2 linked regions of the Homo sapiens genome follow. The protein of the gene in region 1 purifies or fractionates together with the protein of each later gene. This does not show direct contact. Each region holds a gene or a part of one and is shown on either strand. Other genes may lie near its edges. The genes, in order: USP16 and OSCP1.

Region 1 (3,822 bases):
TTGTTAGAATTATTTTTAATTTTTATTAGAGAAATTATCAGTTTAATTTGCATAGACTGCAGAGCTAAGAAAGGTAGCTTAGAAGGGAAGCAAATCAGTTTTCTGATTAAAGTGCTGCCATTATTTCACATGTATGTAGTGAGGAGTCACCTTCCTAAGAGTATCAAGTTCTGAGACTGTTCAAGATCTGTGTAAGATGACCAAGGTTCTCTCCTGACCTTTACATATATTGAAAACCTCTTAAGCTTGCTAAGAATCACTTTCCTATGCTATGAAAAACGGGAGATAACTATTCTATCTACTTGAGTTCCTGTTGAAAATTAGATGATTATATGTGATTGGTCTTTGTAAATTACAATGTGATAGACATGCATAATATACGTGGCTTAGTTATATTACTGTCTCCTAGAGAAATATAAGACATACTTTTTTTTTTGGTCAAGCTAACTTTATCTTGTTTTCTAGATTGTTATTTTGTGTCAGTAAGTAATCCATAAAGTGCCAACATGGGAAAGAAACGGACAAAGGGAAAAACTGTTCCAATCGATGATTCCTCTGAAACTTTAGGTATATTTCATTGATTGAATCTTTAATGTTTATATCTCTAAATGAATATGTTTTAAAATGTAAAAATGGTATAAAGCTGCATATTATTGTTATATTATCTGCATTTTAATATAATGTTTGTATCTATATGTCATTTAATAGTCTTCTACTTTTTTTTTTTTTTTTGAGAAAGAATCTCGCTCTGTTGCCCAGGCTGGAGTGCAGTGGTGCAATCTCAGCTCACTGCAACCTCCGCCTCCCAGGTTCAAACGGTTCTCTCGTGCCTCAGCCTCTGAGTAGCTGGGATTACAGACACATCCCACCACAGCCAGCTAATTTTTTTTTTTTTTTTTAATAGTGACGGGGTTTCCCTGTGTTGGTCAGGCTGGTCTTGAACTCCTGGCCTCAAGTGATCCGCCTGCCTTGGCCTCCAAAAGTGCTAGGATTACACGTGAGAGCCACTGCACCTGACTTTCTACATCTTTTTTGTTTTTTTTCCTGAGACGGAGTCTGGCTCTGTTGCCCAGGCTGGAGTGCAGTAGTGTGATCTCAGCTCACTGCAGCCTTTGCCTTGAGGGTTCAAGCGATTCTCCTGTCTCAGCCTCATGAGTAGCTGGGATTACAGGTGTGCTCCACCACACCCAGCTAATTTTTGTATTTTTAGTAGAGACAGGGTTTCACCATGTTGACCAGGCTGGTCTTGAACTCCTGACCTCAAGTGATCCGCTTCCTCAGCATCCCAAAGTGCTGGGATTACAGGCGTGAGCCACCGCGCCCGACCTTCAACAACATTTTTAATGGCATATTATTGCATTTAGCAAAGACCATGGATGTATATTTCATAATTTATTTAGATAATTTTCTACTGTTACAGATTTAGGTAATCTTTAACTTTTTAGTATTATGAATGGCTCAGTAGTAAACAACTTTATAGCTAAATCTCTCTGTACATCCAAATATTTTCCTAATACACATACATAATTTTTGAATCGAAGGGTGTAAACATTTTTAAGACTCTTTTGATCCTGTTGCTAAATTGCCATCCAGAAATGTTTTACTAATTTCCAGGCCCCCTATTAGCGTAGTAAAGTGCCCATTTCCCTGAACCTTCATCGGCACTGGTTAGTATCATCTGTAAACATCTGTGCTGATTTGGTAGTTAAAAAAGGTTACCTTCTGACCAGGTGTGGTGGCTCACGCCTGTAATCCCAGCACTCTGGGAGGCCAAGGCGGGCAGATCACGAGGTCAGGAGATCGAGACCATCCTGGCTAACACGGTGAAACCCCGTCTCTACTAAACATACAAAAAATTAGCTGGGCGTGGTGGCGGGCGCCTGTAGTCCCAGCTACTTGGGAGGCTGAGGCAGGAGAATGGCGTGAACCTGGGAGGCGGAGCTTGCAGTGAGCCGAGATTGTGCCACTGCACTCCAGCCTGGGCAACAGAGCAAGACTCCGTCTCAAAAAGAAAAAAGAAAAAAAAGGGTACCTTCTTTTTCTAGTTTGTATTTCTTTGACTACTGAGATTTGGTAGTTTTTCCACCTGATCCCATTTGCATTTATATTTCTTTTCTTGGTGCAAGATCATTGGACATAAAGCTAATTATGCCACTTGACTAGTTTCTAAACCTCCAGTGTTCCTGGAACAACTCAGCACTGTAGAGTGGTTTGCAAAGCTCTTTACTTATCTTGGCCCCAACAGAGTTTTCAGCCTCAGGTTCAACTGCTCATTTTTGCACATTGTGTAACTCCATCATCTGGGGAGACAGCATGCACTTTCACATGTTTTTGTTCTTGGCATGGGCATTTTCAGATTGCCCTTCACTCCCTGAGGTCGCAGTTTAAAGTGTGAGCTATGAAGTCTGAAAGACTTGAGTCTAAATTCTGGCATAGATACTCAGTAGTTATGTGGGTACTAAATCTTAGTTTTCTCATTTGTCATTGGGAATAATAGTGTCTTCTAGGGTGATTGTAAGGATTAAATGGGATAATGTATTCAAAACATTTAACAAAGTTCATAGGACATATTTAATTAATATCAGCAATTTTTATTACTATTATTATCTTCTAGGATTGCACAGATGTTACCTCCCCTGTGAAACTTTTGGTGACTTTAGCCTTCTCTGCTTGTGCTGCTATACCATGTTTCGGAGATTCTTATACATTAATTTATTTAGCTGCCTTTCCTTCCAGAATGTGAGCTACTCAAAGAAAACAGCTGTGACTTGGTCAATTTTGGGCTCCTGAGCGTCTAGCACAGTGCCTGCCCTATAGTAGGTGTATTATTGACTAAATGAAGGACGTTTTCTACAAATCTTTAAAGATAAAGAGAATCATAAGTATGATAAAGGGCCTTAATTTAAAGGAAATAGCCAAATAAATTGAAATGAATTTGTAGTGGGGGACAGTGGTGGTTATATTTAGGACTTCAAGAAAGCGAAACTTCACAAATTTGTGTCAAATCTCTTTCTCACATATTTATCTCATATTATTCAAATATCAAACAATTTTAAGTTCAGAATATCTTAACAGTTTATAGAGTAAATTTCATTTTTGAAATGTGAATCGAGGGTAAGTTTTGAGATTAACTGAAGAAAGTCATTTTTGACCTTATATATTCCTTGTCTATTATTTGTTTTAATAGAACCTGTGTGCAGACACATTAGAAAAGGATTGGAACAAGGTAATTTGAAAAAGGCTTTAGTGAATGTGGAATGGAATATCTGCCAAGACTGTAAGACTGACAATAAAGTGAAAGATAAAGCTGAAGAAGAAACAGAAGAAAAGCCTTCAGTTTGGCTGTGTCTTAAATGTGGCCATCAGGTATGCTTACGTTTTAAGATCAATATGGGATTTTAGAAAACTCTTTGAACTTACTTTAGAAGGTATTACCTGAAAGTACAGTATGGATAAAAGGATACTAGTAACATAGATCATGTTCTCTGGAGAACCAGTTCTGAGATGTGTGTATAGGTGGTGGAGTGTTCTCTGGTACCACACCAGTAAAAGTAAGGGAAGCAAGATTAAGCATAGGGAGAAGTTGAATGAAGAGGCAGTGGCAACAGGGTCTCAGCCAATCCCACAGTGATCTCTTGCCTGAATTGAGGCAAGGAGCTAGACCTTTCTACCTGTGCATAGACCAGTCATTGGATGTGGCCTGCCCCTAGAGCAGGAAGTAACCTTGGGCAAGGCAGCTCCCTTTTGTTGAGACTGATTCCTGGGGATGGATGGACTAGACTGTGAGCTCTCAGCCGGCCACATTCTCAGCACCTGGGGGAA
Region 2 (3,822 bases), on another chromosome or scaffold:
AAGGCAGGCTTTGTGGTACAAGTGGCCTTATATAGCCCTCGAGGCAGCTGCAGGATTTAAATTGGCTGAGGGCAGAGGAAAGACATTCCAGTTGAGGGAAACAGTACATGTGAGGGCCTGGAGGCAGCAATGAGTATGTTATTTTTCTGGGAGAAAGAGGAGAATGGCCTGAGGACAGTTTGTGTTGGGGATGGCAGGTAATAAAGCTGGGTAAGTATGGCAAATGAAGATGGCAACAATAGAAACTGGGGACTGCAAGAATGGGGAGGGAGGGAGGGAGGTAGGGGTCAAGGGCTGAAAAACTAACTATTGGGTACTATGCTGACTACCTGACTGATGGGCTCACTTGTACCCCAGACCTCAGGATCACGCAATATACCCATGTAACAAACCTGTGCATGTACCTCCTGAATATAAAATAAAAGCTGAATTATTAAAAATAGAATAAAGTTTTTGGGGAGATACACAATATAATTTAGACTAGATGTAGTAGAAGTTAGGGGGTTAAAGTTTTCTGGGCTGACATGATCAAAGTGGTGACTGAACGAGATCTGGCAATGATGAGCTGTGACAGAAGGGAGAGACTAGTTAGGGGGAGTAGCTAGCACCTGGTTCCTGAAAAGATTACAATAAATATCTACTGATTGCATGAATGAAAGAAATGTTGTTGGAGCAATCCAGACTTAAGGCCTGGAAAAAAGATAGTGGGAACGGAGAAGTCAGGGAAAGGAAGATCACGCGATATTTAGAAGGAAAAGCTGTCAGTAGGTGGTGACTGCCTAGATTTGGGGGATGATGATCAGGGTTGTCCAGAAGGACTGCACCTTTTCAGCCTAGTGCGGGTGGGGAGGGATGATGCTATTGATGGAGGAAAAGACGTCTGAGGGATGTGGGAGCGGAAGAGCCAGGAGAGAAGATGGACGGTTAACTTAAGGACATGTCTGGGGCAGGATTGAAACGATAAACAACTACCATCTGAGTGTCATGCCAAGCACGTGTATATATATTACCTCATTTGATCCCATTTATTCTTCACAAGAACTCTATGAGGTAGGTATTAGCCCAGTTTAATAATGAGGAAACTTGCCTAATTTCATATTGCTGGTAAGTGCAGAATGATATTTGACCTCAAGACTATCAGATTCTAAGGCACTTGCCAGGACCCTGCTACACAATCCCATTTCTCCTACCTGCAGCCAAACATTTCCACTTAGAAGGTGGCATACAACCAGAATAGCTAGCCAGATGCAGTGGCTCACGCCTGTTATCCCAGCACTTTGGGAGGCCGAGGTGGGTGGATCACCTGAGGTCAGGAGTTCGAGACCAGCCTGGCCAACATGTTGAAACCCCATCTCTACTAAAAATACAAAAATTAGCCGGGTGTGGTGGTGCGTGCCTGTAATCTCAGCTACTCAGGAGGCTGAGACAGGAGAATTGCTTGAACCTGGGAGGCAGAGGTTGCAGTGAGCCGAGTTAGTGCCACTGCACTCTAGCCTGGGTGACAGAGTGAGACTTTGTCTCAAAAAAAAAAAAAAAAAAAAAAGAAATTAAAACAAGCCCCAGAAAACAGGAATAGCCTGGTGTGTGTGCATGGGGATTGGGAAAGTACAATACTGGAGATACAGATTTGAGACTCTGCCATCATTGTCAAACATTAAGTGCTCGTATATAGGAAACCATGCTAGAAATAAAGAATAAAAACAGGTATAAGATGAAGGAATGCCAGTTCAGAGTAATTCAGTAAATTGGGTCTCACAGCTAGTAACTGGTAGAGCTAAGGCTTAAACTCAGCTTTTTTAATTCTAAGTTCTGTGTCCTTCCTCTATGGAAATTTAAACTTCCTTTTCTTTTCTTTTCTTTTTCTTTTTTTTTTTTTTTTTTTTGACATGGGGGTCTCACTCTGTTACCCAGGCTGGAGTACAGTGGCGTGAACACAGCTCACTGAAGCCTCAACCTCCCCTGCTCAAGCTATCCTCCTGTCTCAGCCTCCTGAGTAGCTGGGACTACAGTTGTGTGCCACTGTGTGACCAGCTAGTTCTTCTAATTTTTAGTAGAGATGAGGTCTCACTATGGTTTTTTTTTTAATATGTTAAAAAATATTAGAGACGGGTTTTTGCTATGTTGCCCAGGCTGGTGTTGAACTCCCAGGCTCAAGTGATTCTTCCACCTGGGCCTCTCAAAGTGCTGGGATTACAGGTGTGAGCTACTGTGCTCAGTCTCTAAACTTTTTTAAAGGCAGAGAGAGAAGAGCAAGCAGAACTGAAAATATAATTAATATTTATTGAACAGCTATATGCCAGGCCTAGGTATGTTTCTCACTTAATTATCCTAATAATTGATGAAGTAGCATTTATTATCCTCATTTTACAGATGAGAAAATGAAGGCTCAGAGAGTTAAAGTAACTTTTTTTTTTTTGTTTTGAGACAGAGTTTTGCTCTTTTTGCCCAGGCTGGAGTGCAATGGCGCGATCTTGGCTCACTGCAACCTCTGCCTCCCGGGTTCAAGCAATTCTCCTGCCTCAGCCTCCCAAGTAGCTGGGATTACAGGCACTTGCCACCATGCCCAGCTAATTTTTTGTATTTTTAGTAGAGACGGGGTTTCACCATGTTGGCCAGGATGGTCTCGATCTCTTGACCTCGTGATCCGCCTGCCTCGGCCTCCCAAAGTCCTGGGATTACAGGCATGAGCCACCGCGCCTGGCCGAGTTAAAGTAACTTTCCAAAGGTAAGTGGCAAGAGGTAAGAGGGCCCAGTTAAAGGCAGTCTGTCTCCCTGAGTCTTCTAAGTACCAGTAATAAGTGAGTGCTGACTCTGCAAGTCTAACTCCCACCATCAGTCATCATGATTTTTAAAATTTTTCTTTCTCTCTCTCTCTATTTTTTTTTTTTTTTTTGAGATGGAGTCTTGCTCTGTCCCCCAGGCTGGAGTGCAGTGGCGTGATCTCAGCTCACTGCAAGCTCCGCCTCCCAGGTTCACGCCATTCTCCTGCCTCAGCCTCCCGAGTAGCTGGGACTACAGGCGCCCACCACCACACCGGGCTAATTTTTTTTTTTTTGTATTTTTAGTAGAGACGAGATTTCACCATGTTAGCCAGGATGGTCTCGATCTCTTGACCTCATGATCCACCCGCCTCAGCCTCCCAAAGTGCTGGGATTACAGGCGTGAGCCACCGCGCCCGGCCCTCTCTATTTTTTTAGAGACAGGGTCTTGCTATGTTGCCAAGGCTGGTCTTGAACTCCTGGGCTCAAGCGATCCTCCTGCCTTGGCCTCCCTAAGTGCTGGGATTACAGGCATACGCCATTACACCTGGTCTTTTAAAATTTTTTTGTAGAGATTTGGTCTTGCTGTGTTGCCCAAGCTGGTGTTGAACTCCTGGCCTCAATCCCAAAGCACTGATATTAGAGCTGCAAGACACTGTGCCTGGTAGTCCTCTTTCACATGGTGGGAGAAGTTGTAAAGGAATTATTATTATATTTTACATTAACTAAAGACCAAACTTTAAAGATTTCATTAGTTTCCCCCTGACATCCTATTTCTGTTCTGAAATCCCATCCAGGACACCACATTCTATTCTGCTGTCCTGTGTCCTTGGGCTCCTCTTGGCTGGACAGTTTCTCTGACTCTCCTTGACTTTGGTGACCTTGATAGTTTTGAGTACTGGTCAGGTATTTTGTAAGCATGACCAACCAACAGTATTTGTGTGATGTTTTTCTTATGGTTAGCCTGGGGTTTGGAGTTTTGGGGAGGAAGACCACAGAGGTGAAGTTCCATTTTCATCACATCATGTCAGGGTACATACTGGCAACCTGACTCATCACTGTT

The links.
Region 2: the proteins of USP16 (region 1) and OSCP1 purify together in Homo sapiens (affinity purification with mass spectrometry; one large-scale study listed by BioGRID and IntAct). This does not show direct contact.

The regions. Positions count from the first base shown.
Region 1 is NC_000021.9:29,027,408-29,031,229, forward strand, and holds part of USP16 (ubiquitin carboxyl-terminal hydrolase 16), read left to right. Parts: intron 1-465; 5' UTR 466-506; coding exon 507-567; intron 568-3,187; coding exon 3,188-3,366; intron 3,367-3,822. UniProt on the Homo sapiens protein: Specifically deubiquitinates 'Lys-120' of histone H2A (H2AK119Ub), a specific tag for epigenetic transcriptional repression, thereby acting as a coactivator.
Region 2 is NC_000001.11:36,433,229-36,437,050, forward strand, and holds part of OSCP1 (protein OSCP1), read right to left. Parts: intron 2,726-3,822; exon of another isoform or gene 2,571-2,725; intron 1-2,570. UniProt on the Homo sapiens protein: May be involved in drug clearance in the placenta.